Homo sapiens: one gene and its partners. The protein of the gene in region 3 interacts with the protein of the main gene of each other region in a pairwise test. Each region holds a gene or a part of one and is shown on either strand. Other genes may lie near its edges.

What was found.
Region 1: the proteins of UBXN6 (region 3) and TRIM39 interact in binary tests that used the Homo sapiens proteins (3 or more experiments, as listed by UniProt).
Region 2: the proteins of UBXN6 (region 3) and UBXN2A interact in binary tests that used the Homo sapiens proteins (3 or more experiments, as listed by UniProt).
Region 4: the proteins of UBXN6 (region 3) and FAM168A interact in binary tests that used the Homo sapiens proteins (3 or more experiments, as listed by UniProt).

Annotation. Positions count from the first base shown.
Region 1 is NC_000006.12:30,329,433-30,337,291, reverse strand, and holds part of TRIM39 (E3 ubiquitin-protein ligase TRIM39), read right to left. Parts: coding exon 7,522-7,859; intron 6,512-7,521; coding exon 6,416-6,511; intron 1,548-6,415; coding exon 1,317-1,547; intron 1-1,316. Other genes in the region: TRIM39-RPP21 protein, read right to left, coding at 1,317-1,547, 6,416-6,511, 7,522-7,859.
Region 2 is NC_000002.12:23,936,046-23,943,931, reverse strand, and holds the start of UBXN2A (UBX domain-containing protein 2A), read right to left. Parts: upstream 3,470-7,886; 5' UTR 3,284-3,469; intron 3,248-3,283; exon of another isoform or gene 3,076-3,247; intron 1-3,075. UniProt on the Homo sapiens protein: Acts to repress the ubiquitination and subsequent endoplasmic reticulum-associated degradation of CHRNA3 by the STUB1-VCP-UBXN2A complex in cortical neurons.
Region 3 is NC_000019.10:4,447,061-4,454,919, forward strand, and holds part of UBXN6 (UBX domain-containing protein 6), read right to left. Parts: intron 7,034-7,859; coding exon 6,870-7,033; intron 6,463-6,869; coding exon 6,398-6,462; intron 5,433-6,397; coding exon 5,304-5,432; intron 3,771-5,303; exon of another isoform or gene 1,356-3,770; coding exon 1,258-1,355; exon of another isoform or gene 566-1,257; coding exon 490-565; exon of another isoform or gene 128-489; coding exon of another isoform or gene 45-127; exon of another isoform or gene 1-44. UniProt on the Homo sapiens protein: May negatively regulate the ATPase activity of VCP, an ATP-driven segregase that associates with different cofactors to control a wide variety of cellular processes.
Region 4 is NC_000011.10:73,587,924-73,595,782, forward strand, and holds part of FAM168A (protein FAM168A), read right to left. Parts: intron 1-7,859.

The DNA of each region.
Region 1 (7,859 bases), on a different chromosome or scaffold from region 3:
CTGGGATTACAGGCGCCCACCACCATGCCCAGCTAATTTTTTTGTATTTTTAGTAGAGATTGGGCTTCACCATGTTGGCCAGGCTGGTCTCAAACTCCTGACCTCAGGTGATCCACCTGCCTTGGCCTCCCAAAGTGATAGGATTACAGGTGTAAGCCACCGTGCCCAACCCTTTACTGAAAATTTTAAGTTGAGACCTACTGCTCAGAAAAAAAGATTCCTTTCAAAATATTACTGCTCACTGACAATGCACTTGATCACCCAAAAGTTCTGATAGAGATGTAAAATGAGATTCATGTTGTTTTCACGTCCGCTAACACAACATCCAATCGGCAGCCCATGGATCAAGAAGTAATTTGGACTTTCAAGTCTTAATAAATGTATTTCATAAAGCTGCTATAAATAGTGATTTTTCTGATAGATCTAGGCAAAGTAAATTGAAGGCTTTCTGGTAAGGATTCACCATTCTAGATGCCATTAAGAACATTTGTGATTTGTGAAAGGAAGCCAAAATATCAATATTAACAGGCATTTAGAAGAAGTCTATTCCAACCCTTATGGATGACTTTTAGGGGTTCAAGACTCCCATGTTGTAAGTAACTGCAAATGTGGGTTTTCAAAGATTTTCAAAGAAGTTCTACTGGTGAGTAAAATGCTATTAAACAGCATCACATGCTCAGAGATATCTTTCATAAAAGGAAGAGTTGAAAGTAAACTTCGTCGTTGTCTTATTTTAAGAAATTACCACAGTCACCCCAATCTTCAGCAACCACCACCTCGATCAGTCAATACTAACACAAGACCCTCCACCAGCAAAAATATGATTCCACTAGGAAACCCAACAATTAATGTGACTTGCTTTATCAAGATACTCGCTTTATTGAAGTGGTATGGAACTGAACCCACAATATCTCTGAGGTATGCCTGTATCCTTTAAACTATGTTTCTGTCCTTTTTCAGCAGTACATAAATCAAATTTCAGGACTTAAAAGTAATGGTAACTGCATTTACAAAATTTTTAATGCATAGTTTTTCACTAACTCAGGCTAGACTTCCCTCCTTTCAAAAGAATGAATCTTTTCTTTGGAACAGATTAAGCACATAATTGCTGACCAGAGATAAGAACACAAAAATGGTTAGAAGGGGATGGGAGAAATCACTTTTCCGTAGCAAAGACCCTTTGAGTACACCTGGCAGAAAGAACTGGATTTAGAGAAGGAGAGCAGAAGAATGAGTATCCCAGGCTGACAAATCCCAGGCTACGCAAAGCTACGCTGCACTCAGCCTGAGGGGCTATGCAGGGGCAAAGGTCGAACCTTAAGCATCTCGAAGCCTGACTGTAAGCACTTGCCCTCCACCTCGGCAGCCAAGTGGGCCAGGTCCCGGCGCTTGTCCCCAAGGTGAGCAGCATTTTCTCGGAGTCGCTGCAGAATGTCCTGTTCCTCTTCTTCCAGTCGTGAAAGCAACACCTGCTGCTCTTCATCCAGCCGCCTATGAAGCTCTTCAAACTCCCTCAAGATCTGCTGTCGGCGACTTTCCACTAGTCTCTGAGAAGAGAGGGAAGATGTTGTATCAGCAGGGTCAGTGTGGTATAAGGAAGCCTTTCTCTCACCCACCATATGTATGAATTAACACAGACTTCCAGTTTCATTGAAAATGGTTTAACAAAGGCTGGGTGTGGTGACACATGACTGTAATCCCAGGACTTTGGGAGGCCGAGGGAGGTGGATTGCTTGGGATGAGAAGTTTGAGACCAGCCTAGGTAACATGGTGAAACCCCAACTCTACAAAAAATACAAAAAATTAGCTGAGTCTGGTGGTGCATGCCTGTAGTCCCAGCTACTGGAGAGGCTGAGGTGGGATGATGGCTTGAGCAAAGAAGGCAGAGGTTGGAGTAAGCTGAAATTGTTGCACCATTGCACTCCAGCTTGGGCAACAGATCGAGATGAAAGACAGACAGACAGGAAAGAAAGACAGAAAGACAAAGACAGAAAGAAAAGAAAGAAAGAAAATGAGAGAAAATGGTTTAACAGAACACTCATTTTTTATTCCATTGGAATTTCCTTCTGTAAAGAATGGCTCCATCACTATCACCCCCCTACTGATGACTTGGTAGTGAAGACCACTGCGGATATATATATTTGTTTTAATTTAAGATAAAGAACTCAATAATATGATGACATTAACTATTACAGATATCAGAGATATCTGTGTTATTATCAACTGTAAAGTTCTAGTTAATTCAATCTGTCGAGAAAAGGAAAGTATAGGCTCAGCATGGTGGCTCATGCCTGTAAACTTAGTGCTTAGGAGGCCCAGGTGAGAGGATCACTTGAGGCCAAGACCAACCTAGGAAACATAGTGAGACCTTGTTTCAACTAAAAAGAAAAAAAAATTAGTCGGGCATGGCAATGCACATCTGCAGTCCTAGCTACTCAAAAAGAATCAAGAGGATGGATGGCCTGAACACTGGAGTTTGAGTTAGTGTGCTGTGATCACTACTGCCCTCCAGCCTGGGTGAGTGAGATTCTGTCTCAAAACAAGCAAACAAAAAACAACGAAACAAAAAGGAAAGTACAAATAATAAAAAGTTAAAAATAAGATTGTCATCCTTTGCATATTGCAACACATGCACCAGATAAAAACCAGAGAACTGGGAAAGTGTAAGAATCAGTAAGAGTTATATGGGTTATTATAAAATATACATATGTAGATTTCAGGGCTGAACTTGTTAAATTGTTTCAAGTCACTTCAGAGAACTGGCAATTCCTACCCCAGGAACAGGTTACAGAAGTTTGTTAGTAATTTAGTTTCTTGAAATTTGAAACATGCTTTCTTTAAGCCAGCACACAGACTTAAGCCTCTAACATTCCTGAAATTTGATAATATAGGACTCAAACACCAGCCATAACACTTTCTGAGAATTATCAGCACATCCTCTCTTCTGCATCTCCACTACAACAAATAGTGATCTCCCTAAAGAATTCCCCAAGCATCATGTGACTGATGATGAAGCAAAGTGAGAAGCAGAGACTGGGACTCTAGAAGGAAGTGGATAGGGAATGAAAGGCAGGCTTGAGGGTGGAGAGAGAGTGGGGATGCAAAGCCAGGATGGGCCTGACAAGCGTGGCATTTGTGGATTCAAGCTAGTTCCTGGCAGAGGCTGACTAGCTCTTCTAGTTTAGGGCCACTTGCTGCTTCACTTTCCACCACTGCCTTCTCAGTGTACATCTGAACAAAATATATTCTCACATTTGCCCTCAATAAAACACAGCCTTTGTGTGTGTGTGTTTGCACATGTGTGTGCATGCATGTGTGTTTGTTTAGGTATGGGTGTAAGTTTAACATTCATGACTGTGATAAATAGGAAGCAAAAAGGCCCTTCCTCTTATAAACCGGTAATCTTTTCTCTTTTTTTCACTCTATATTTTAGGGCAGTGGTTCTTGATGAAGCTGTTAACACACTCTGAGGATATTTTGGAAATAGGCACATCTTCTTGTTTTCCATGGTTGGGGAAGTTCCTGACAATGACGCAAGCACTCCTCCAATGTGTGAGACAATCCGGCATAGTGAACTGACCTGCAACATTTTCTAATGTTCTGCTGGATATTCAAAAACACAGGCCTGGGCGGCCAGGCACGGTGGCTCACGCCTGTAATCCCAGCACTTTGGGAGGCCGAGGTGGGCAGATCACAAGGTCAGGAGATCGAGACCATCCTGGATAACACGGTGAAACCCTGTCTCTACTAAAAATAGAAAAAAAAAATCAGCTGGGTGTGGTGGTGGGCGCCTGTAGTCCCAGGTACTTGGGAGGCTGAGGCAGGAGAATGGCATGAACCCGGGAGGCAGAGCTTGCAGTGAGCCGAGATGGCACCACTGCACTCCAGCCTGGATGACAGAGCGAGACGCCGTCTCAAAAAAAAAAAAAAAAAAAAAACCACAAAAACAAAAACATAGGCCTGGGCTTGAATGCCATTTTATATAGTATAAACACAGAGTAATTCTTACATGGTTTTACTATACGTGAATTTTTCAGCAATAGCTGAATAAAACCCAAGATTATATTGTTATACTTAGAACTTTACCAAAAGTTATTACTATGAAAAATCATATCACCAAGAGCTAAGCTACTTATGGTATTTCAATCATATTGGCACACATCCATCTCAGTCTGAATTTGTATTTATGGCGTTGCTGATAATGACACATATAGGGGCAAGCATATAACCAGCTACACTGTAAAGTCGTTCAGGGTAGTCATGCCCAAATATTACATACCACATTTTATCATCAATTATGTTTCATTATATTATATTTGGACATGATAGACTCTTTAAAATTTAACATTATGCACATAGGTTATATTACCTGTAATTTTCAGTTCAGCATAATTACAAATTATTTTTTAAAGGGGCATTGAGTCTGATGAGGGAGAAGGAGGGAGAATTCAAATGGTCACAAGAGGAATGTTGGTGGTAGTTTTGGAGACCACTGAAATGACAATTTACAGTTTAAAAAACAGGACAGTTCTGTTCAAGCATTTAGAAGGTTTTAAAAAGGTATATTTCTCTCTCCATCCTTTACCTTCAAGAAGGTGATCAACATGAAGAAGAAAGTTAATGACTAGCAATAAGCACCATTTTCATATTTTTAGGTTTCTTGGAAGGCCTCTAAAAGAACAAAAAACTTTAAAAGTTCACATTTCTAACCAAAATTGGTTCAAATTTTAAAATTTCAAATGCTTACTTTGCTAAAATGTATAAGGCACTAAGGTAATAATACTTGCTTTCTGATGAAATGTTATCATTCATTTAAAAATTCATGTTTCTATGAATCAAAACTTGGATTTAGCTTCTGGTGATCTCTACATGTCAACTCTTAAAAACTCATTACTTCTTCGGGAAACCTTTAATGAGGCCAAATTTCTATGTTGTCTTCTTATGAACTTGCAGCTGTGCATTTTGTGCCATTACTTATTTTCTCCACTTAACTTTAAGCTCAAGGAGGGCAGGAACTGTGTTTTTGCTCATCATTGTTCCCCAGTGTCAAATACCGGGTTTGGCCTAAACCAGGAGCTTAACAAATATTTACTGATTCACGAAGAACTAGTATTCCTGGTTTTGCCACTTACTGGCTTTATGATCTTGGACTAGTCACTTACCCAAGGTCCATTTCCTTCTGTGTAAGCTGAAGGTAATAATACCTACCTTAAAGAATATCTAGGTTTACCCCTACATCTTACTAAAGATGGCCTCAGGATTTCCTTCTGTCTCTTTCTCGTAGCTTTTCTATGTCTCACTTATCCCAATTTGGCCTGAACTCTAAGACCCTAACAACCCTATAAATCTGGAATGTTACGGATACCTAATGAATTAATGCATAGGACTCAATTCTAGTTATTTTTGCTACAAATGATAATTGTTCACTGTTCAATGGAAGACAGACAGACACCAAAATACCATGCTACAAATAAGGCAATGCTATAAAAGAGGTGCAAAATTGTATGAAAATTAAGAATGTTAATTTCTGAAGGGTCAGGAAAGGCTGCATAGGAAGTGGCTTTCATCCCGCCTGAGAGATGAATAAGATCCTATGGTGGAGGATGGGGAGGGGGAGAACATTCTAGCATATGTAAGCTTACTTGAGTTTTAAGAATGTGGTCCTAATGTCATTAGATAGTTCTTCTGAGACTCTTGGTCAGCTCCTTTTCCCTTTCTCCCCAGTGAATCTTCCATATTCTCCTCTCTTCAAGTCCTCTAAGAAACTCCCATCCCTGCCTTCTCAGCAGAAAGCCTCCTTTGCTGCTTTAACAAAAAAAGGAGACCAAGAGGCACGAACTCTCTCAGCTCACCAGATGTAAGATATTCTGTCTGTTCTTCATCTCTTAAATCCCTCTTAATACTTAATTCATGACAAGTAATTTAAGTACAATGTTTAATGACAATCAAGCCTAATAAAATGCCATCATTTTTGAGAGAACTACATTGTTCTTTTTTTTTTTGTTTGTTTTTTTTGTTTGTTTGAGACAGAGCCTTGCTCTGTTGCCCAGGCTGGAGTACAATGGTGTGATCTTGGCTCACTGCAACCTCCGCCTCCCAGGTTCAAGCAATTCTCCTGCCTCAGCCGCCCAAGTCGCTGGGACTACAGGCATGTGCCACCATGCCCGGCTAATTTTTTGTTTTTAGTAAAGACAGGGTTTCACCATGTTGCCCAGGGTGGTCTCAAACTCCTGAGCTCAAGCAATCTGCCCACCTTGGCCTCCAGAATTGCTGGGATTACAGGTGTGAGCCACCATGTCCGGCGAGAACTGCATTTTTCTAATGAACCGGAACTGGTGGATTAAATAGTGTACAGTTAATTCCCTCATAGGCAAATACCCTTCAGAGCAGCCTACATGGGATTGCCTGCCTTTACCTTGAGCTCACCAGGCTTCTTCTCCTCAGAGGACTTGCAGCGAGTGATCTCCTGCAGCTTCTGTTCCAGGGGCTCCAGACACTTCTGCAGTTTTTCCTGAGGGGTAGGGAGGAAGTGGGAGAGGTGACATTTGGGGTTGACTGGTATACCTACCATTCAGAGATTAAACCATTTGTTTTAAACCATTTATTTGCTTCCTAGCCATCTTACTGCCTCTTGATCTGACTTCCTTCCTTGCCTGTCATTTGGGATGTCAACTTTCTACAGTCCCTCCTCCTGCCACTAGCCTGTCCACATCACCTTCTCTGCTCACCCAACTGTCCTTTTACTGAATCTGAGATAGCTGTCATCAACTCTGTGTCCTTTCTCAACTCTTTCCATTTTCTTACTGAGGCAACTGCCTATTACCATCCAAGCAACCTTCTGTACCCTAATATCTCTCTTTAAACCTGTCCTCCCATCCACCTCTGTCCACCTACAATAAAAACATGGTTATTATACTGTAAGTTACCTGAAATCTTGTTTTCAAGAGTAACATAACTAAGCAAAGTATATGATAAAATGCTAACACATTCATATCTCTGTTCCCTTTATTCAAACATTTTCCTTTGTCTCAGCAGTAAGTTAAATGATATGCCATGTTACCCATTACCTAGAGAAGCTGCAAACAATTGAATGGTTCAGCTTAGTCCGGTAGGTATCAGTCTCAAGCGATATTACCTATGCCCAATAACCAGTGTGAAAACAAGGAGCATTCTGAGCAGGCAGGCAGAATGAAGAAACCAGACTACTTTTCAGTTCTTCCTAAGTTTAATCTTTTCCATGTGGTTTCATTCATTTATGAAAAATATGACCACACATACCAATATTCACCCATAAGACTCACATGTATTGCAAAAGTCAGAGAGAAATTTTAGGGCACTTCTCACCATTGCTCTTTTTCAGGCTAGAGGACAACTGATCACACATACTGTGTGCCCCTGCATATGCAGCTCTGAGAATACAAAGTGAGTAGTAGGAGCTTACGATCTCTACCTAGGGAGTATCTCATCCTCTGCCGCTTCTCCCTTTTTACCCACACTGACATCGTGTGTCTGCTTCCCCACCTTGTACTCCTGTGTAGCATCGTCCAGTGGCACAACGGTGTGGGCCCGGTGGGTGTGGGAAATTGCACATATCAAGCATACAGCCTCCTGGTCCTCATAACAGAAAAGGCTGAGGGCCTCATGGTGTTGGGGGCAGAGGCTCTCATCCCGGATCTTCCGCTTGACGGCCTGGAGCTGCTTGGCAATTTCCACCATACTGCCTAGTTGCCGATTAGGTCGGAGACTGCGGTAGCGGGATGTCTTTCGACAGACAGGACAAGGGAAGTCCCTCTCTAGGTCCTCCCACCAGCGGGTGATGCAAGCTTTGCAGAAGTTGTGCCCACACTCAATGATGACAG
Region 2 (7,886 bases), on a different chromosome or scaffold from region 3:
AACAGCATTTCTGATACAAAGCTGAGGGCTAAAGTGCGCTCGGAGGCAATGACCACTCCAACATGTCTCAGCAAGAGTGCAGCCATCTTGGGTTCTGGTCTGGACGGAAATGCAAAGCTCATTTTAAATATAATCTCCTTTAGCTGGGCACGGTGGTTTAAGCCTGTAATCCCAGCACTTTGGGAGGCCAAGACGGGCAGATTACCTGAGGTCAGGAGTTCGAGACCAGCCTGACCGACATGGTGAAACCCTGTCTCTCTCTACTAAAAATACAAAATTAGCTGGGTGTGGTGGTGCATACCTGTAATCCCAACTACTTGGGAGGCTGAGGCAGGAGAATTGCTTGAACCCAGGAGGCAGAAGTTGCCATGAGCCAAGATTGGGTCATTGCACTCCAACCTGGGTGGCAAGAACAAAACTCTATCTCAAATAAATAAAAACATACATACATACAATCTCCTTTAGAAAACCTTCCATGATTCCTCCAATAGGTGTGAATATAAAATTATTAACATGAGAAGAGATCAGTTAGGTACTCTTAAATTTTCAATGCCTTCATTGCCACAATTCTAGTCCCAACCACCATCAACTCTAGGTGGTCTCCTCATTTCCATTCTTGTCCCCATCCAATCCAGTTTCTACACAGCAGTCAGGACGACTTTTTGAAATAAAAAGTTGGCCAGGCACGGTGGCTCACGCCTGTAATTCCAGCACTTTGGGAGGCTGAAGTGGGCAGATCAGAAGGTCTGGAGTTCGAGACCAGCCTGGCCAACACAGTGAAACCCCGTCTCTACCAAAAATACAAAAAACTAGCCAGGCATGGTGGCGCATGCCTGTAATCCCAGCTACTCGGGAGGCTGAGGCAGGAGAATCGTTTGAACCCGGGAGGCAGAGGTTGCAGTGAGCGGAGATTGCACCACAGCACTCCTGCCTGTGCGAGACTCCGTCTCAAAAAAAAAAAAAAGTTGTTTGTAGTAAGACTTACCTTGCTTTAAACTTTTTTTTTTTCTGACGGAGGTAAACCTTTAAACGACTTCCTATTACTGTTAAAATAACATCCAAGTCATTTGGGTAATATTACGGGAGAGTTCATTGTACTGTTCTCTCCCTACATTTGAGTGGTTTGAAAAGTTTTCTATAAAAGTTTAAAAAAGAAAAAGAAACAGAAAAAGCTGGTCCCAAATCCTTAACATTGCTTAAAAGGCCCTGCATCAGCCGGGCACGGTGGCTCACGTCTGTAATCCCAGCACTCTGGGAGGCCGAGGTGGGTGGATCACCAGAGGTCAGGATTTTGAGACCAGTCTGACCAACACAGTGAAACTCCATCTCTACTAAAAATACAAAAATTAGCCGGGCATGGTGGCGCGCATTATAGTCCCAGCTACTCGGGAGGCTGAGGCAGGAGAATCGCTTGAATCCGGAAGAGATTGCAGTGAGCCAAGATCGTGCCGCTGCACTCCAGCCTGGGTGACAGAGCGAGACTCTGTAACAAAAAAAAAAAAAAAAAAAAAAGCCCTGCATCATCTCTTTGGCCCTAACCTACTTTATCACAGCACCCTTTTGCTTTCCACACAACAACTGCTGAAGTTCCTGAAATGACCATCTTCCCTAGCCTCCGCGCCATCTATTTCCTTTGCCTGAGCCTTTCTTCTCTCCTTTGGGAGTCATCTTCCCCTAATTCCTATTTATCCCTAATATCTAAGCTCAAAGATTACTTTCCTAGGAAAACTTTCCCAGCTTGGATAAGTCCCCCTGTTACCTTCTCTCACAAACAACTTACATTCTTTATTTTAGCCTCTGTCTTTGCTTATTGGCATTTATTTGTGTGATTATTTATTTTATTTTACTTTTTGAGATGGAGTCCCGCTCTGTCACCCAGGCTGGAGTGCAGTGGCACCATCTTGGCTCACTGCAACCTCTACCTCTCGCCGGCTCAAGCTATTCTCCTGCCTCAGTTTTTCTGAGTAGCTGGGATTACAGACGCCCCCCATCACGCCCAGCTAATTTCTGTATTTTTAGTAGAGAGAGACGGGGTTTCACCATGTTAGCCAGGCTGGTCTAGAACTGCTGACCTCAGGTGATCTGCCCACCTCAGCCTTTCAAAGTGCTGGGATTACAGGCGTGAGCCATCGCTCCGGGCCCTGATTATTTGCTTAATATCTGTTTTGCCCAATGACACTGTAGAGTCTAAAGGCAGAGTCTGTAATTGTCACTATTGTATCCTTAGCATTCAGTACACAGTAGGTACTAAAATTTTTTTGAATGAAAAAAATTAAATCAAGTGTATGCTAATTATTATACATTATTAAATTAAAATGCAAGTAAAGTACCCTCCACAGTGCCCAGCTGAAAACAACTGCTCAGTAAGTGTGAGCTTCCATTAACACTGGACTGCAGTCAGCCTCATATCATTAGTGTGCTTAACCACTCCCTCCTGCACACATTTTTTACACATTTTTGGACTCCGCCAGTGCCTAGCACTAACATTAGTGTTATAAAAAGATACTCTGTATTCACTGAATTTAATTGCCTTTTAAATAAATCCGACTTTCAGCATATTTAGAAAGAAGACACAACATGAACTTTTAAAGTTTCCCCCCTAAAAACAAACTGCAACCGGCCAGACTTCATACTACCACATTATTTTCTGCATTCGCATCAAAACAAATCAGCAGTTTCCTATCTTTACTTATCTCAAATTACGTACATAGGAACTCAACGCTGGATGCCACACGAACATTCATCATTGCTGACAAGTAATAAACTCTTTTATTACTGGCAGCGAAAAGGAAAAAAAAAAGGCACAAAGAAGAAATTAAGGAAACGTGAAATCAGCGAACACCAGGCCTTCAAAACATCAGAGAAAGTGAGTGGTGGGAGTCGGGTGAAGTCACTAATAGGCATACTTTGTATCACTGGACTGCGATCGTGCAGCGTTCGCCTTTGAAAATAGAAACATTGTGTTGCGCATAACTGTAAGTTTCGGAACGCCCTGCGAGAGAACCAGGAGCTGTGCCTTCAGCTAGCTCGCAAGTCAAGCCGCAGGCGAGTCAGGGGCTCGGGGTCGCCGCTCACCTGGGCTGGGCGGGACCCTGGCTCGGGCTCCGCCGCCGGCGCCCCTTCCCGAGTCGCAAACACGCGGCCCTCCGGAGCGAGACTCCCCCCGACACCGACGATCCGCGGCGGCCAAGCCACAGGCCGCGACCCCTCGGCCCCAGCCGGCAGGCGACCGCCCCGCCCCGCCCTCACCCCGCCGGACGCGGCGCGGCCCCGGGACGCTCACCTCCGGGCACGGCCTCCCGGCCTCGGCCTCACTCAGCTCAGGCACCGCAGGCACCGTTTGGCCGCGGGCTCCGTTTGGCTGGAGCCCTTCAGAGCCGGAGCGCCGCCGCCCCAGACCGCCTCAGGTTCCGCGGCCGCGCCGCTGAGATCCCGCCAGCCTCTCTCGGTCTTCGCCAGGCGCCCAAGCGCGCGCCGACGCCGGCTCCGCGCAGACCCGAGGAGCGCGCGCGGACGCGGGGGCGCGCCGAGGGCGGGGCTTGCCGCGGCCGGGCGCTTCAAGTCCCGGCGGGAACGGCGCTAATGGCCGCCTCCCCTTCCCACCACTGGCCCGGCGGCTAGCTGCCTTCATGGGTAGGGGAGATGCAGGCAGCTCGGTGTGTGCTCACCAGAGAACCCAGAGTGTGCTTACCTGGGTACCTCCTCAGCCTCAGAAACCATGGAGAGACATCCCTGCATTCTGACAATGTTGAACTTGACCTGAGCCCTGTGGACAACGAAGTTGAAGAAACCCCCACCCACCTTTTTTTTTTTTTTTTTTTGAGACTAAATCTCGCTCTTGTCCCCCAGGTTGGAATACAATGGCGCGATCTTGGCTCACCGCAACCTCCGCCTCCCGGATTCGAGCGATTCTCCTGCCTCAGCCTCCGGAGTAGCTGGGATTACAGGCGCCTGCCAGCACGCCCGGCTAATTTTTGTATTTTTAGTAGAGACGGGGTTTCACCATGTTGGCCAGGCTGGTCTTGAACTCCTGACCTCAGGTGATCCGCCCGCCTTGGTCTCCCAATGTGCTGGGATTACAGGCGTGAGCCACCGCGCCCGGCCCCTTTGTGTTCCTAAAAGGACTTACTACACGCAACCGCCCTTCCGCATGTGACTTTGTCAGGACTCAAGGATGCCCCCGTCGTTAGCTGTGACAAGGTCAGGCCCAGACCCTCTAAATTCCAGTTCTTCGCCTCGCAAATAGTTAGCTGACCTGCCTGTACTCACGATGTGGACAAATCCCGGCTGCCTTGACTTGACAGGACTTGAGTGAAGCAGCTCTCCCTGGGCCTCTCTACACGGTGACCGAGCCTCAGCCGCAGCCAGCGAGCAGCCCTCCTCATCCACCGCCTGAAAATAGACGGACCCCAGGGAAACAGTCTCTGTATAGTCTCATCGCTGCCACCTCCAGTCTTCTCCCCACTTCCCCACACCCGGGTCTTTCTAGCCCTGTTCACTCATCTCTGTAAAAGGAAAGCCCTTTTCTGCCTGACCCAGGAGATCGCTGCAGATCTCATGGTTGGAGAGTTCTCCCGGTTGCTGTAGCCTCCCCCAATCCCCACTCTCAGTTGCAATAGTTTCTTTCCCTTTTCTTGGATCTCTTCCACTGAACTCTCTCCTTACGTATATCCAGATTTGTTTTTTATTTTATAGTCCAGCATTCTCCCAATTGCAACAGTCCTTCTTCCTATTGCAATAGTTCTCCACCCTTATTGCAATAGTCCTTTTCCCCCCTGTTGCAATAATCCTTTCCGAATAAAGTCTCGGTTTGCCTAAATCGGGATTTATTTGTAAGTCTTTAGTGCGGGGACTCAGATTGAGATTGATCCTCACCTACAGGCCCATGCCGTTCCCCCCACCACCACCTCCCTCATCTCCTGTTCAGTGATTTTGGGAGCCTGTGGTGAGTTCAAATCTCACTGCTCATGAGACCGTGTCTGTTGAAGCACAATAAGGAGTTAAATTGATCCCATTAGGCAAAGAGACTTTTCTTTGACCATTCTGTGAGAGCTCTTCCGATTTTTTGGTCCCAGCACCATTTAATGAAGAGAGGATTCTTCCCTTGTCAAAAATCAATTGACCATGGATGTATAAATTTATTTCTGTACTCTCAATTCTATTCCATTGATTATGTATCTTATCTTTATGCTAGTACCATACTATTTTGATTACTGTAGCTGTATAGTAGCTGTATACAGCTGTATAGTAGCTGTATAGAAATCAGGAAGTTTGAGTCCTCCAACTTTGCTCCTCTTTTTCAAGATTGTTTTGTCGCTTGCAGTTCTGTATGAATTTTAGCTCAGCTTTTCCATTGCTGTTAAAAAAAAAAAAAAAGGGAGGGGGGGGCCACTGGGATTTTGACAGGGATTGCTTTGAATTGGTAGATCAATTTGAGGAGTATTGATACCTTCAATTTTTTTTTTGAGATGGAGTTTTGCTCTTGTTGCCCAGGCTGGAGTGCAATGGCATGATCTCGGCTCACTATAACCTCCGCCTCCCAGGTTCTAGTGATTCTCCTGCCTCAGCCTCCCAAGTAGCTGGGATTATAGGCATGCACCACCATGCCCAGCTAATTTTTGTATTTTTAGTAGAGACAGGGTTTCACCATGTTGGTCAGGCTGGTCTTGAACTCCCGACCTTAGATGATCCACCCGCCTCGGCCTCCCAAAGTGCCGGTATTACAGGTGTGAGCCAACACACCCAGCCGGAGTATTGATATCTTAACAATACTGGTGCGATGACTCACTTTATATATAAAGTCTTCAAATCCTTAAGCATGAATATTTTTGCATTTATAGTCGTGCGCCACATAACAACCTTTCGGTCCATGACTTACAGCATATGTGATGGTGGTCACATAAGATTATAAGGCCATATTTTTACTGTATCTTTTCTATGTTTAGATACACAAATACCATCATGTTACAATTGTCTACAGTATTCAATACAGTAACATGCTGTCCAGGTTTGTAGCCCGGGAGCAAGGCTATGCCATATTGCCTAGATGTGTAGTACACTATACCATCCAGGTTTGTGTAAGTATACTCTGTGATGTTCACACAACGACGAATTCACTTACACGACACATTTCTCAGAAGGTGCCCCCATGGTTAAGCACTACATGACCATACTTAGACCTTCTTTCATTTCTTTCAGCAGTGTTTTATAGTTTTCCACGTACAAGTCTCGTACCTCTTTGGTTAAATATATTTCAAAGTATTTTATTCTTTTTGATGCTATTGTAAAAGGAGTTGATTTATTTCCTTTTTAGATTTTTTATTGCCAGTATTTGGAAATACCACTGATTTTGTGTGTTGATCTTGTATCTAACAACTTTGCTGAATTCACTTATTAGCTCTAATCATTTGCTAGAGATGGGGTCTCCGTACATTGCCCAGGTTGATATCGAACTCCTGGGATCAAGTAATCCTTCCACCACAGTGTCCTGAGTAGCTAGGACCACAGACGTGTGCCACCATGCCCGACCAATTAAAAAAAAATTTTTTTTGTAGAGATGGAGTTTCACTGTGTTGCCCAGGCTGGTCTCGAACCCCTGGCCTCAAACTATCCTCCTGCTTGGGCCTCCCAAAGCACTGGGATTACAGGTATGAGATACCACACTTGGCCATAGTTTTATTTATTTCTTTCTAATGTGGATGCCTTTTATTTCTTTTTATTGTCTAACTGCTCTAGCTAGAACTTCCAGTACAATGTTGAATAGAAATGAAGAGGCTGGGTGTGGTGGCTTACACCTGTAATCTCAGCACTTTCGGAGGCTGAGGCAGGAGAATTGCTTGAGCCCAGGAATTTGAGACCAACCTGGGGCAACATAGCGAGACTCTATTACTAGACTTAAGAAAAACAGAAAAGAAATGATGAGGCCGGGCACGGTGGCTCATGCCTTTAATCCCAGCCCTTTGGGAGGCTTAGGCAGGTGAATCACTTGAGGCCAGGAGTTCGAGACGAGCCTGGGCAACATGGTGAAACCCCGTCTGTACTAAAAATACAAAAATTAGCCAGGCGTGGTGGCAGGCACCTGTAATCCCAGCTACTCGGGAGGCTGAGGCAGGAGAATTGCTTGAACCCAGGAGGCAGAAGTTGCAGTGAGCCGAGATCACGCCACTGCACTCCAGCCTGGGTGACAGAGCAAGACTCTGTCTCAAAAAATGATGAGAGTGGGCTTCTTTGTCTTGTTCCTAATTTTAGACAAAAAGCTTTCAGTCTCTCTCACCATTGAGTATGATGTTAGGTGTATGTTTTTCTTTTTCTTTGAGACAGAGTCTCTCTCCATCCCCACAGCCCATAGTAATCTCTATTCTACTTTCTTTCTCTCTTTTTTTTTTTGAGGTAGGATTTTCACCAGGTTGCCCAGGCTAGTCTCAAACTCCTGGACTCAAAACAATCCTCCCACCTTGGCCTCCCAAAGTGCTATGATTACAGGTCTGAGCCACCACGCACAGCCTATTCTACTTTCTGTCTCTATGAATTTGCCCATTCTAGATACCTCATATACGTGGACTCCTACAATATTTGTTCTTTTTTGTCCGGCTTATTTCACTTAGCATAATTATTTTCAAGTTCATTCATGTTATAGCATGTGTCAGTATATCATTCCCGTTTATGGTTGAATAAGATTCCATTGTATGTATATATTACATTTTGCTTATCCATTCATATGTTGACGGCCATTTGGGTTGCTTCCACCTTTCTGCTATCTTGAATAATGCTGGTATGGACTTTGGTATACAAGTATTTGATTGACTCCTTACTTTCAATTTTTTAAAATTTTTGTTTTATTGTGGCAAGAATATTTATTTATTAATTTAATTTATTTATTTTTGAGA
Region 3 (7,859 bases):
AGTGCTGGATGCAAACCTGCTTTTCTACGGTGGGGGCTGTGGAGTCTCCAACAGCTCTGCACAGAGGAAAGAGTCACAACCAGGCACGAAGAGTGAGGCTGAGGAGCCAGACACTGCTGGGGCCTGATGCGAGGCTAACACCGCCCAGGACCCCAGTCCCTGCCCTTTCCCCCAGAAGAACCAGACATCTGGTTTGCATGAGAAACCTCCCCAGAGTCGACATGTTCCCAAACAAGCCCAGCTGAAGAGGAGGAAAAGGATGCAGGTGAGGAGAGGCAGAATTTGTTGATTTGGGGTGACCGGTGCATAAAAGTCTTGCTCTCCATCTTGTCCTGCTACCTTCTACTGGCCGAACCCTTCACTGCTTGTGGCTCAACTCTCGCTAGCTCCTCCAGGGAGCCCACCGCCTGGTGTGGGCCACCACCGGCTCCTGCAGGCCAGCTGCCCCCACCCCCAGCCTGGGCCCCGGGGGCCAGAAGGCACGCCCACCTGAAACACCTTGTTCTGCAGCTTGATCTTCCGGTACTTCTCCTCCTCGGGGTGCAGGTGGATGTTGTCCAGGTACCTGGGGTAGGTGGAGAAGGTGAGTGGGGCACAGCCCAGGCTGCCCACCCGGCCCCTCTGTGCCTCCTGCTCCAGGTAACAGCAGCTCAGCCACACTTGGCCTCTAGTCAGAGGGAAGAAGCGGCCCAGTGACGCGAGGGCAGCAGACCATCTCCGGGTGGAAGGCACACCTCGGACACCCCATGGAGCCCACCCCTGGTGCCAGCAGGAGCCCCACGGAACCCCTCACCGTCCCACCAGCCCTGGAAGGGCACAATTAACCACAGCGGTGGGGAAGCCACAGTGCCGGAAGAGTGGAGAGCCAGAGCTGAAGGGCCGCAGTGCCAGCAGGGGGCTCCTGCGGGGTGCTCCCTCGGCGTTGGCGGGCAGCGTGGACCTCCAGGCCTGCCCCCGATCCTGAGACCCGGGGAGTGGGGTGGGACCCTGCCTCCTCCACATGTTCCCCAAGGAAGCCAGGGTGGGAAACCCCTGATTCCTTCAACACCTTCATTTTGCACACGGGTAAACTGAGGCCCAAGGAGGCCCAGCCCTTTGCCTGAGGCCTCTGGGTGGAGCTGCCTCACTCTCGGCCTATGCTCCTTCCCAACCCACCTCAGCAGGTAATGAGGGGGCCAGAGGGGGTGACAGCCCCAGTGGGAGGGGTGCTGGGATGAGCTGGAGGGGCCAGGCAGGGCAAAGGGGCCACACGCTCACTTGGCAATGGTGTCCACACCCAGCTTCACCCGGTCCTGGTCTTTGTTGAACGTGTAGATCTTCATGATGGAGGCGGCCACTGGGTCGGTGGAGAAGTGCTGGGAGGAGGGAAGCAGGGAAAGCCACTCACTGAGAGCCCGGGCCGCACGGCCCTCCGCTGCCCAGGTAACAGGGGCAGGAAAAGGAAGGCAGAACAGCGGCTTGGAGCGGCCCCAGCTGTGCGCTCATCACAGAAAGGAAAAGAGAGACCCTCCAAGACCGCAGCCCTGCCCACGCCCCAGGGCAGAGGCGACGCAGCCAAGACCCAGCAGAACTCAAGTCTCCCCTTCCGCCTTCTCAAGGCTAGATCCATGGGACTTGGAAGCCAGTGTGACGCGACAGAACTGTGCCTCACACTCTGGCTTTAGAACTCGACCTCAGTGCTGAGATCCATCAAGGCCACCGCCACTTACAGAACCTCCCGCCACCATGGACGCCCCATCCCTCCTGCTCTCGCAGCCCCATGATGGACGTTCTGGAACCACTCCCGGGCCTCATGTTTACAAAGAGACCGAGAGGCCCATCGTCCAGGGTCACAGGGATGGCAGGTGGCAGAGAGGACACAAATGAGTCTGCAACCCTCAATGTCTGAAACTCAATAGCTGGAAGACGGATACCCCCAGCCCCTGCCCCTCCCCGAGGTCCCACCTATCCACCTATGTTACCGGGGGAGGGGAGAAGTCATAGCTGGAACTCTGGGGGTTTCCCAGAACCAGCCCTGCTGACTGCGAACAGCGTCCCAGCATGGAGAGGCTGAGAACAGTACGTACCCTAAGACCTGGAAAAGATTGGGGCACAAATCCACGCTCGGCACAGCCATCACACACGGCCACACCCAGAGAGCCACCCATGGCCTGGGAAGCAGGGCTGCCACCCGCACCTCCCTGGGCTGCCCAGACGAGGGCGGGTGAACAGAAGGGCAGCCCAGGGCCATGTGTCAGGATTCGGGCCACCTGCCCAGGCAGCCCAGAGCTCCACCCACCACCCCCCACCCTCAACTGCACAGCAGGGTCCCTCAGCAGCCCCCTGCGTCACACGGACCAATGACCTACACACTGAGCCGGGGCTCATGCCAACTGAAAATTGGGACCCGGCCCAGTCTGCCGGTTTAGTTGCTGAGATGATGTGGGGAGCGGGACAGAGCACGTGGATGCAGAGAGGCAGAGCTGCCAGATGGGCATGTCCCCAAGACAACAGCTTCCTTGGGATCAGAGCGCCCGGGACAGCACACCAGCCAAGGGAAGCGTGTCAGCTCCAAAAGCGGGCCTCGGGCGTTTTGGGCGACTGGCTGCCAGGCTTAGGTCAGGAGCTGGGTACATGCACAGACAAGGGACGAAGGAACAGCAGCCAGGAAGGGGTCCAAATCCATACAGGAATGTACTTTGTGAGAAAGGTGGGATTTCACAGCTGTAAGCAAAAGACAGGTGCTCTCGACAGGTGGGGCTGAGAAGAAAGCTGAGCCAAGATCTAAAAAAAAAATTACATCAGCTCCATCCCACCATGTTACATAATAACATGCTCCAGCTGGATCAAAGCTTCAACCATGGAAACAAGCAAGCAGTCAAGGAGAAGCCAGAAGAAAAGCTCTGGAGGCCGGGCACGGTGGCTCATGCCTGGAATCCCAGCACTTTGGGAGGCCGAGGCGGTCGGATCACGAGATTAGGAGAGCGAGACCATCCCGGCCAACATGGTGAAACCTCATCTCTAAAATACAAAAGTTAGCCCGGGTGTGGTGGCGTGCACCTGTAGTCCCAGCTACTTGGGAGGCTGAGGCAGGTGAATTGCTTGAACCCGGGAAGCAGAGGTTGCAGTGAGCTGAGATTGCACCACTGCACTCCAGCCTGGTGACAGCAAGACTCTGTCTCAAAAAAAAAAAAAAAAAAAGCACTGGAGAGGCCACAAAAGAATTCTCTCAGCATGGAAATGGGGAAGGCATTTCTAAGAATGACCCCAAACCCAAAAGCCATGAACTAAAACTGACACATTTAATTATACAGAGATCAAAAAATCCTACACAGCAAAGTGACCATAAGCAGAGCCAACATAGAAGCAACTAGAGGGAAACATGTGCAACTCATATCATAGGCAAAAGCCTAAATTGCCTAATATGTAAAGAGTGCTGCCGGGCACGGTGGCTCCCGCCTGTAATCCCAGCACTTTGGGAGGCCGAGGCGGGCGGATCACGAGGTCAGGAGATCGAGACCATCCTGGCTAACATGGTGAAACCCCGTCTCTACTAAAAATACAAAGAATCAGCTGGGCGTGGTGGCGGTTCGCCTGTGGTCCCAGCTACTCGGGAGGCTGAGGCAGGAGAATGGTGTGAACCTCGTAGGCGGAGCTTGCAGTGAGCAGAGATGGCGCCACTGCACTCCAGCCTGGGCGACAGAGCGAGACTCTGTCTCAAAAAAAAAAAAAAAAAAAAAAAAAAAAGAGTGCCTACAAATCACTAATAAAAAGACAAACTATCTACTAAATAATGTAGAAAGGACGCATTCTCATATGAAACATGGCCAATCCAAAATAAGGAAAGTGCAAATTAACTCTATCCTGAGATGTTATTTTCACCTACCAACAGGCGTAAAGATCAAAGTTTGGTGATTTACAGTATGGTGAGAGGATGGGGACACGGGTGCTTTTGCACACACTGCTGGAGTGGGTGTGAGTCTGGAGAGTCTATGGAACTATTACTATTTTGTTTTGTTTTGTTTTTAAGATGAAGTTTCGCTCTTGTCACCCAGTGTCCACGCTGGAGCTCAATGGCGTGATCTGGGCTCACTGCAACCTCCACCTCCCAGGTTCAAGCGATTCTCCTGCCTCAGTCTCCTGAGTAGCTGGGATTACAGGCGCCTGTCACCACGCCTGGCTAATTTTTGTATATTTAGTAGATAGGGGGTTTCACTATGTTGACCAGGCTGGTCTTGGAACTTCTGACCTCAGGTGATCCACCTGCCTCAGCCTCCCAAAGCACTGGAATTACAGGCAAGAGCCACCGCGCCCAGCCACTTACTATTTTCTGAGAAAGGGTCTCACTTGTCACCCAGGCTGGTGTGCAGTGGCATGATTACAGCTCACTGCAGCCTCTACCTCCCAGGCTGAAGCAATCCTCCCACCTCAGCCTTCTGAGTAGCAGGGACTGCAGGTGCACGCCACCATGCCCAGCTATTTTTTTTTGTTTTTGGCAGAGACAGGGTTTTGCCATGTTGCCCAGGCTAAAGCCGAAGTTTCTGAGAACCTATTGATGGTGTTAAGTGAGGACTTGCTGTATTGGAAAAAAATGCTGTGGACGTTTTTATTTTTTGAGATGGAGTTTTGCTCTTGTTGCCCAGGTTGGAGTGCAATGGCGCTATCTCGGCTCACCACAACCTCTGCCTCCTGGATTCAAGCAATTCTCTTGCCTCAGCCTCCCGAGTAGCTGGGATTACAGGCATGTGCCACCATGCCTGGCTAATTTTGTAGGAAGTTCTTTCTGTATTGAAGCAAATAATACTTAACCTTTTATGAAAAACAACCAGGCCACGCGTGGTGGCTCACGTCTGTAATCCTAGCACTTTGGGAGGCTGAGGCGGGTTGATCACTTGAGGCAAAAGTTCGAGACCAGCCTGGCCAACATGGTGAAACCCCATCTCTACTAAAAATACAAAAATTAGCCAGGCATGGTGGCAGGTGCCTGTAATCCCAGCTACTTGAGAGGCTGAGGCACGAGAATCGTTTGAATCCAGGAGGCGGAGGTTGTAGTGAGCCGAGAATGCGCCACTGCACTCCAGCCTGGGTGTCAGAGTGAGACTCCATCTCAAAAAAAAAAAAAAAGACACCTAGTTGGGAGAGAGGAGATACAGATGCATACACAATGGTGTGCCTGGATTTGGGGTATCAGAGGAGGGGCTTCACTACTAGCAGTGGCCTCTGGGGACTCTGGGAGGGATCTGTACCACCTGGGCTTCCGATGGAGGGTGGCTCAGGCACAGGAAGCTACAGGTTGGGGCAGGAGCACACAGGGTGCCACTCACCAAGAGAATGGCCTCCTTGATGCAGGCGTCCCGCTGGTCCTTCCTCAGGGTGGCCCCAGTGAGCGGACAGGTGAAGTACACGCCAGGCACAGCCAGGTGGGCAGAGCCTTCCTCTCTGGGCTCAGATACCTGGGGCGGTGAAAGCGTCCAAGTCTGGACCGTGGACAGAGGCCACCCCGACCCTCGCCGAGCACCACAGTCCTGAGTGTGGCCCGTAGAACCAGACATCTCCAGCCCCCATGCTGTCCCTTCCACCTGGTGGCCGTGGGAGACACCCTGGCCAAGTGACCGGATCCCCGAGTCTTTTCCCTGGTATGTCAAATGTCCCTGTGGGGCCTGCTCAGAACTAAACGAGGTAAGGAACGGAAAGTACGGAGCAGCTTCTGACACGCAGGAAACACCCAGCAGATGGCAGCTGGGTTCCTGCTGGTCCTGTCCCCAAGCTGTTGAGGAAGGAGCTCTGTGTGGGTGTCTGCGGGCACAGTGCGCTGGACAAGGCATGACTTCTGGGCCTCCATTTCTAGGCCATCTCTAAGGTCCCTGCGTGCTAAAATTCACTGAATCCTCGAGGGTCAAGCTGCTTAGAACTCCTTTCAGCGGAGCTCTGAAGGCCCACCTCCTAGAGGAAGGCCTCCCTGATTCCACCCGTCTCCACAGAGCCTCTTGACCTCCAAGGCAGGCAGGACTGGGCAGTGCTAGGGGACAGGCTCTGAAACCACAGACTGGCTCTGGTCCTGCCTTTGCTGGTCCTGGGGTGTAGGAGAGAGGACAGCTGGTTTCACCTCTCTCAACCCCGGTTCTCTTTTTGAATAGTGGAAACTGTAACTGCATCTGCCCTTAAGGGGTTAAGGGGAGGGAGCGATGGGCTCGTGTACCTGAGGCCCACTTCTCCAGGCCTGAGCCGGCATCCTCAGCTGCCGAGCCCCGAAGGTCCCAGACAACACCGTGTTCCACCACAACCTGTGTCCACCTTGCAAGGCAAGGTTTTCCAACAGCCCTTGAGCCCCAAGGGCAGAGGCCACATCTCCCCCGTGACACAGTCAAGCTGTCCCCACCCCTTGGCATGGGACAGTGCCACCAGTGGCTGTTCTTACCACGTTGGTCCCTGGGGCCTCGGGGCTCCCGCTGACGGTGGCTTCGGCTTGAAGTTCCTTTCTCACTGGAAGGCAGCCCAAGAAAGAGAGGCAGAGACGGGATAGTGAGCACGCCGCTGTCCTGGCCCAAGCCCCCTCATTCCCGGGGTGGGCCTGGGGGCCACGCACACCGCCCCAGCCTGCTTCTGCTGGAGGTCAGGCTGGAGGTCCCCTGCAGGACTTGCTGTGCAGCCACCCCTCAGCCTGAGCAAGCACCCCACTGCCTGGGCAGCCCGTTTCTGCTCCAAGTCTCTGCTCCCACCCCCTCCCCAGGAAGCTGCCCTTCCCCCAGCACCTGCCCTTGATGAGCCGCTCCCAAGGGTGACCCTCACACCCCCACGGTTGCTCATGTGACTTCTGCATCCAGGGCCAGGCACCAGGGCCGAGAACCTCAAACAGCCCCAACCTGGGCCCGAGGAGGGCCATATCTCACCCTGGTTTCGGATGGTGTCCTGCGATGTGGGGCCCCAGGCCCGGGACTGCTTCTGCTCCAGCCGGGCTAGGGCGGCAGCGGCTGCCATCTGTGCCTCATTGGTGGGTCCCTGGCGGGGCGGCCTGGGGGCTGGCTGGTTGGGCTTCTCTTTGTGGGCCTTTTCCCTGGGAACAGACCGAGGGAGAGTGAGTGTATCCTCCCGAGGTGGCCGGCAAAGCTGACGTGCAGTCACACAGAGGAGCTTCTGCCCCTCCCCAGCACCATCAGCCAGACGTGTCCCTGCCTATGTGGGCCAGGACACCTGGTTCCCAGGGGCCACCTGCAGCCACCAGATGGTTCTACTGCAGGCGGAAGAGCCCCTGGAGGAAGGAGATGCTGGTTCCACTCAGCTCTGCACCATCGGGCAAGTCCTGCCCCCACTGGCCCTCAGCGTCCTCATCTGTAAAATGGGGTGACAGCACCCCTCCTGAGGTGAAGGCACCTTGACATCCTCAGTGCTTTTTTTCTTTTTGAGACAGGGTCTTGCTCTCTCACCAAGGCTGGAGTATAGTGGCACGATCATGGCTTACTGCAATCCTGAGCTCCCAGGCTCAAGGAATCCTCCCGCCTCAGCCTCCCAAGTCGCTGGGACTTAGAGGCAAGCATCATCATGCCTGGCTAATTTTTCTATCGAGACAGGGTCTCGCTATGTAGCTCAGGCTGGTCTCGAACTTTTGCCTCAAATGATCCTCCCACCGTGGCCTCCCAAACTGCTGGGATTATAGGCATGAGCCACAGCACCCAGCCCGCATCCTCAGGAATTGAGGAGACTCAAGGGGTGTCACATCCTCCCTCCCTCCCTGCCATAAGACTCTCCACCCTCAGGTCACAGCTTCGTTTGCTGAGCACCTACTGTGTGCCAGGACCCTGCTGGGAGCTGGTCGGCTCGCTTGGTTTACTCCTCCTAACAAGCTGCCAGGGAGGCCTCACCATCCCATTCCTAAACCCAAG
Region 4 (7,859 bases), on a different chromosome or scaffold from region 3:
ATTTTTAGTAGAGATGGGGTTTCACCATGTTAGCCAGGCTAGTCTCAAACTCCTGACCTCAGGTGATCCACCCACCTCGGCCTCCCAAAGTGCTGGGATTACAGACGTGAGCCACCGCACCGAGCCTCACATAAAGCATTTCTGCTGCATATTAAGGTACAAGAATTGTCTCAAAGAAAAGCACTAAAGCACTTGTGCAATTGAGTTGCAAACTGTACTGGCTGCTTTAATAAACACCATTTTTACTTGAAAAAACGACTGGCAGAAAAACTATGATTATTCAGACTTGGATGTTTGGCAGACAATTTTTTGAAAATGAACAATGTGAGACTGTCACTTCAACGAAAACAACTGTCAGTATTGGTTGCCTATGATAAAATTTGAGCTTTCAAATGAAAATTAGAAAAGATTTGTCTGATGAGATGAGTGGTGATATTAACAAATGTGGGTTCTTAAACATTATACAGTTCAGAAGATCTGCACATGGCCAGGTGCGGTGGCCCACATCTGTAATTCCAGCACTTTGGGAGGCTGGGTCAGGGGTATCACTTGAGCCCAGGAGTTGGAGACCAGCCTGGGCAACACAGTGAAATCCCGTCTCTATGAAAAACTACAAAAATTAGCAAGACACGGTGGCCTGCACCTGAAGTCTCAGCTACACGGGAGGCTGAGGTGGCAGGATTACATGACCACGTGAGCCCAGGAAGTTGAGGCCAAAGTGAGTCGTGAATGCACCACTGCACTCCAGTGTGAAACCCGGTCTCAAAAAAGATGCTCCACAATAACTCAATAATATAGACTGAACTGCCTCCCCTCAAAATTCATAAATTGAAGCCCTATTCCTCAATGTGATAGTATCTGGAAACACATCCTTTGGGAGATAATTAGGTTTAGATGATTTATAATTAGGTTTAGATTAGGTCATGAGGGTGGGGCTGCCATGATGGAATGAGTGCCTTCAAAAAGAGACACCAGAGAGCTTGCCTGTCCACTCGCACTTATTCTTTCTCTCTCTTCTCCCTCTCCAATCCACCATGTGAGGAAACATCGAGAAGATGGCCATCTAGATGCCAGTAAGAGAGCCCTAACCAAAAACTAACCATGCTGGAACACTGATCTTGGACTTCTTTCTAGCCTGCAACACTGCGAAAAAATAAATTTTTGTTGTTTAAACCACCCAGTCTATGGCATTTTGGTATGGCAGCCAGAGCAGACTAAGATATTCAGTGAACCAATATTTTCCAAATGACCAACGCATAATGCTACAAAAATTATGCACGGGTAAAAGATCTAACAAAGTACGAACAGACCAATGGTTTTTCTTGGAGAAATAAGCAAATTAAAAAATAATAAAGAAAAAAACAGACCAATGGATTTTAATGTAACAGAGCATGAAAAGCTCAGTGATATGGTTCAGACTGTACAAGGCAATGAACCTTAACAAACTACCAATTGTCAAGTTTTGGTGTAACATGGGCGTCCAACCTTTTGGTTTCCCTGGGCTACACTGGAAGAAAAATTGACTTGGGCTTCACATAAAATACACCAACACTAACGATAGCTGATAAGCTGAAAAAAAAAAAAAAAGAAAAAAAAAGTGTGTATAATTTTCATGATATCCACTACAGATAAGCAAAAAAGTCCTCACATTCAAAGGGCTGGACATGACTGGTGTAGTATCAAAGAGGAATATCCACAATTATATAAAAACATTCCTCCTTTCGGCTGGGCACGGTGGCTCACGCCTGTAATCCCAACACTTTGGGAGGCCAAGGTGGGTGGATCATGAGGTCAGGAGTTCAAGACCAGCCTGGGCAAGATGCTGAAACCCTGTCTCTACTAAAAATACAAAAATTAGCTGGGCGTGGTGGCGCACGCCTGTAGTCCCAGCTATTTGGGAGGCTGAGGCAGGAGAATCACTTGAACCCAGGAGGCGGAGGTTGCAGTGAGCCGAGATCCTGCCATTGCACTCCAGCCTGGGCGACAAGAGTGAAACTCCGTCTAAAAAGAAAAAGAAAATTCCTCCTTTGTGGGACTGGATTTTCTTTATATTCCATGCAAAACAACAAACTGCAACAGACTGAATACTGAGGCAGATCCAATAAGATACTAAAGAGATTGTTTTAAATGTAAAATATTATTCTAATTTTTTACATTTAGAATAATATACTTATTTTCATTAGAATATGCTAACACAGCTGAAGGCAGTGGCTCATGCCTGTAATCCCAGTACTTTGGGAGGCTGAGGCAGGAGAATTGCTTGAGCCTAGGAGTTCAAGACCAGCCTGGGCAACTGAGCAAGATCCTGTCTCTACAAAAAAAATTTTAAAATAACCAGGCATGGTGGCACATGCCTGTAGTCCCAGCTACTTAGGAGGCTGAGGATGGAGGATCACTTCAGCCTAGTAGGTCAAGGCTGCAGTGAGCCATGACTGTGCCACTGCAAGCAAAAGTTCTTTGGAGTTGTCAATAAATATGAATGTGAAGACACCAAAATGTTTGAGAAACTGTTGCTACATAGCAATAAGCAAGAACACACTACACCTACATACAAGAATAAATGAGTCTCACAAATATATTATATATGAAAAGCCAGTCACACCTATGAAACGTCATAAACAGGCAAAAATAATCTACATTATTAGAAGTTGTTGGTTTCCTTGGAGGAGGAGATAATGTTCCCTTTCTTGATCCGAATGCTGGTTATACATTTTGTGCATTTTTTTCTACATGTTATACATACCTCAATATAATTTATTTTTAATTTATATTTTCCATATAAATATACACACATCTGCCTTATGCTCACCTACAGAAGTTTTGTTAACACTGGTCGAGAGTAGAACTGACACATATCTTTTTTTTTTAAACAGCTCCTCGGGTGATTCTAAAGAGTAGCCAGATACTACCTGTCTAAATAGGTTGAAGACTACTGATTAGGCTGGGTGCAGGCTCACGCCTGTAATCCCAGCACTTTGGGAGGCCGAGGCAGGCAGATCATCTGAGGTCAGGGGTTCAAGACCAGCCTGGCCAACATGGTGAAATCCCATCTCTACCAAAAATACAAACAATTAGCCGGGCATGGTGGCACGGGCCTGTGGTCCTAGCTACTCAAGAGGCTAAGGTAGAAGAATCACTTGAACCTGGGAGGAAGAGTTTGCAGTGAGCAGAGATCGTGCCACTGTACTCCAGGCCGGGAGACAAAGCGAGACTCTGTCTCAAAAAAAAAAAGAAGACTACTGATTTAACAGCTTAAAACCAGGAAGATTTATATGCAGTACAACAAAAAGAACAATGGCTCTGGAGCAAGGCAGATCAGGTTTTTAAATACGAGCTTTTCTTCTCTTACTAGCTATGTAAACAAATGCAAACTAGTTAATCACTATATGCCTCAGTTGCTTCAGTTTCTTCTTCTGTAAAATGATCACAATTCCTTATACGACACAAATATGAGGATTAAATTCTATCTATAAGGAAAAGAAAGCACCCAGCATACTGCCTGCCATAGACACTCAAATGTTAGGTACCTTTTGTCTTTCCCTGCTAATTCCCTACTTGTCTTATGGCCTAAGACAAATTACCCTCTTGAATCTTTTTATTCATTTATTTATTGAGATATAGTCTTGCCCAAGCTAGAGAGCAGAGGTATGATCATAGCTCACTGTAGCCTCAAATTCCTGGGCTCAAGTGATCCTCCCACCTCAGCCTCCAAAATAGCTATGAACAGAGGTGCACGCCACCACATCCAGATAATATTTTTGTTTTTTGTAGAGACTGGATCTCACTATGTTGATCAGATTGGTCTTGAACTCCTGGGCTCAAGCGATCTTCCCACCTTGGCCTCCCAAAATCCTGGGATTACAGGTGTGAGCCACTGCACCCAGCTACCCTCTTAGAGTCTTAATTTCTTCATCCTTAAAATGAAAATAATGCCACATGACCAACCTAAGAACTATATATAAAATGGCGCCATTATATTTGCATAAGTATAAATAGCATAGCTGTTATCTACTGATAGAGACATTTGCTATCAACTCAAAATAAAAGATAGAGGAAGACACATTAGAAAACTAAAATACTTAGAAAAATTATAAAACAGAGGCTAGAAAAGAAATACAAGTTAGCAGAAATCGTCAAGCTTGAGCGACATGATCAGAAGGCAAATCAAGATCATAATCTCAAGTAGCCAAGGATTGAAGTTTACTGTGAAAAATATATCATCTCAGGGTTCCTTCAAAATGTCTATATCTAAGAAAAAGCACAACCTATATCATCATAAAATAGGCATATTCTGAAAGGACCCAGACACCTGCCTAACTGGCAGGAGGAGGAGGTGTATTGGAACTTTATAAACTGAGGTTTTCTCAGAGTGTCTTCATACAGAAAATAATGGCTCATTTAATAAAATGTTAAACTTTTAGATAAACATAATTTGACAAAAAAATTCTATACCATTGTTTTCAATACTAAAGATATGCATAACTGTCCAAGGAAGTAAATTTAACAAAATAGAGAAAGAAATATGAACTTGGTTTAGTCTCTTTCCTCTTCAATATTTTACAACTTTGAGTTGATTTCTGTTAACGTACCAGGGGTCGGCCAGCTATGGCCCGCCCATGGCCTATTTTTGTATGGCCTGTGAGTTTTACATTCTTAAAACCACATAAAAGGAGGAGAAAGAGAAGGGGAGGGAGAAGAAGGAATGGGGAGAAGCAAGAGGAGGGGCTTCAGGAAGGAGAAGAACGGGGAGGGAGATGGGGAGACAAAAAGGAAGGGGAGTGGAAGGGAGGAGAAAGAACAACAGAGGCCATATGTGGCACAAAATATTTTCTACAAAAAGCATTTGCCAGCCAGGCATGGTGCCACATGCCTGCATTTGTAAGCACTTTGGGAGGCCGAGGAAGGAGGATCACTTGACCAGGACAACATAGCGAGACCCTGTCTCTACCAAAAAAAAAAAAAAGTGTTACTGGGTAATAGGACTAAAAACAATACTTATGCTTCTTTTTACTTTTTGTAATTTCTAGTTTTTATCATGAGCACACATTATTTAATGGTGGAAGAAATAAAGCTTTTTTAAAAGTTAAAAAATAAGAATAAGAATAAAGCAAGTCAGAAGAATATTTATCCTATAATTCTATTTATAAAAAGTTGCAAAGGTAAAAAATATACTGTTTAGGGATATGCACATATTTGGTAAAAGTATAAAGAAAAGCAAAGAAATGATTCACATAAAATTTAGGAAACTGTTTATCTCTGAGGGAGAGAGAAGATGGGAGATTCAATCAAGTAGGACCTCACAAGAGGCTTTAAAGGTACTAGAAATCTCCTTTTTGTTAAGCTGGGTAGCAAGTAGAAAAGCCTTCAATTTGTTATTCTTTAAGTTGTGGGTTTATGTTAAATATACTTTTATACATATGACATATTTTACAATTTAAAAAAAGGATATAAATGGGGATGACAAATTAGAATTTGGGGGCTGTAACCCAGACTTTTCCACTGACTGTGTAACCTTAAACAAGTCATTTAACCTCTCAGAGCATAATTTTTCTTCTTATTTTATTAATGAGGAAGCTAACAGCTAACATCTGTTTAGGACTTTGGCATTTAAAGAACTGTTTAAAGTTCCTAGACTGTAAACATGCAAATATGCATGAGATCATAAAACAAAATCATACCTCATTAATAAATACCACAATACTAAGAACTCATTGGTAGGGCACACAAGGCTATTCACCATTCTAGCCTCTGCCTATCTTTCTAACAATAAAGGCAACAACTAATTTTTTTAATGTGTACTATAAAACATATTGTGTGAAATGCTTTCCATTGATTATCTTATTTAATCCTCAAAACAATCCTATGATGTTAATTCTATTATTCGCACTTTACAGATGAGCCCATTGTGCCCAACGTCACACAGCTAATAGTAAGTGGTAGACAGACTTCAAAACCCACATTTAACCATAGCATTCATTTTGCCTCACTTTTCTCACCGTATTTGTCTATCTTTCCCATGACACTGAAAGCTCCTTGACAACTGCTTTCTGTTCATTTTTATTTCCCCTGGCACTTAGCAGACATTCATTAAATAAATAAATAGTGAACAGATATTTCATATATGTACAGTGTTTTCAGGACATGAACTGGTTTGTTCCCCTTGACAGCCTTGTGAAGTATGAAAGTTTGATTGTGTGACAGGGTCTCATTCTGTAACCCAGACTGCAGTGCAGGGAAGCACGATCATGGCTCACTGCAGCCTTGACCTCCCTGGCTCAAGCAATCCTCCCACCTCCCTCCTGAGTATCTGGGATTACAGGTATACGCTACCACACCCAGCAAATTTTTTTTTTTTTTTGTGGAGACGGGTCTCCCTATGTTGCCCTCACTGGTCTCGAACTCCTAGGCTCAAGCAATACTCCCAGCTCAGCCTCCCAAAGTCTGGGATTATGGGCGTGAGCCACTATGCCTGGCCAGTTTTTTTGGTTTTTGAGGTTTTTTTGTGTGTGTATTTTTACCTTTTTAACCAAAGTTAAGTGTACAATTCAGTGGTATTAACTATGTTCACAATGTTTTGCAGCCATTACCACTAAATATGAAAGGTTTTTTGTTTGTTTTTTGTTTGTTTGTTTTGAGACAGAGTTTCGCTCTTGTTGCCTATGCTGGAGTGCAATGGCGCAATCGTGGCTCACTGCCCACCTCCCCAGTTCTAGCAATTCTCCTGCCTCAGCCTCCCAAGTAGCTGGGATTACAGGCACGTGCTACCAGCTAATTTTTGTATTTGTAGTAGAGATGGGGTTTTGCCATGTTGGCCAGGCTGATCTCAAACTCCTGACCTCAAGTGATCCACCCACCTCGGCCTCCCAAAGTGCTGGGACTACTGGCGTGAGCCACCACGCCTGGCCATCTGAAAGGTTTTTAATGACTTGACTGAAATCACTCAGCTTTCAAGTAGTAGAACTGGGATTTGAATCTGGGACTCAACTCCTAAACTCATGGGCTATTCGTTCCACAAAGGCTTCTGTCTATCAATACCTCCATCTGCTCTCTTCTCACCAAGATATCGGGAGGATCAAATGAGGTAAAGATACAAAAACACATTACTACTACACAGGTAACCACGGCTGTGGAAAAAAAAAATCCACCAACACATTTCTCCCAGGCACTTTTCATTTTGGGCTTTCAAAAGCTAGGGCTTTAATATAAACATCCCACCTCTAGACCAAGCCTGCAGATCTGCAAAAACAACGTCTAGACCTCAGAGTAAAGTTATGAGAGAAATGCTCACATTAGATTACAGTCTCACTGAATTACAGGTAACTGCTCAAACCTGATCTTTATTATAATACAGAAAGCTTCCTCATTACAAAACACTTTCAATTCAAAGGATAAGTCCAACGTTCCATCATTCTGCCCATTTTGGAGCTAAAAAAAAAAGATTCTAAATGGTATTTTTATATGCTCAATCGTGAAAGCCAAGGAAAATGGTTTGTTTGCGAGCTAAATTCTGAAGCTTGAACAAAAATAAAAAGAATTATTTCGATCCCAATGGTGCCAATTTTATCTTCTTTACATCCCTCCTCATTTTTTTTCAGTCTGAGCTCTAATCAACAGCCACTTTATGTTTAACATATTATCACAGTTAATGCAATTAGGTCCATAGAACTGTTTCTCTAAAGATGTTCCCTCCATTTGCACTCCTGTGTACCTTCCATTATCATCGTTCTGCCCTAAGAATGAGCATATCGCTAAGGTTTAAATCGAATTTCTGATGAATAGGTGGAGATGCTGTTTCTGTAGTTAATACAATGCGACTACATCAACATCATTCCCCAAAAAATAAAATAAAAATGACTCAA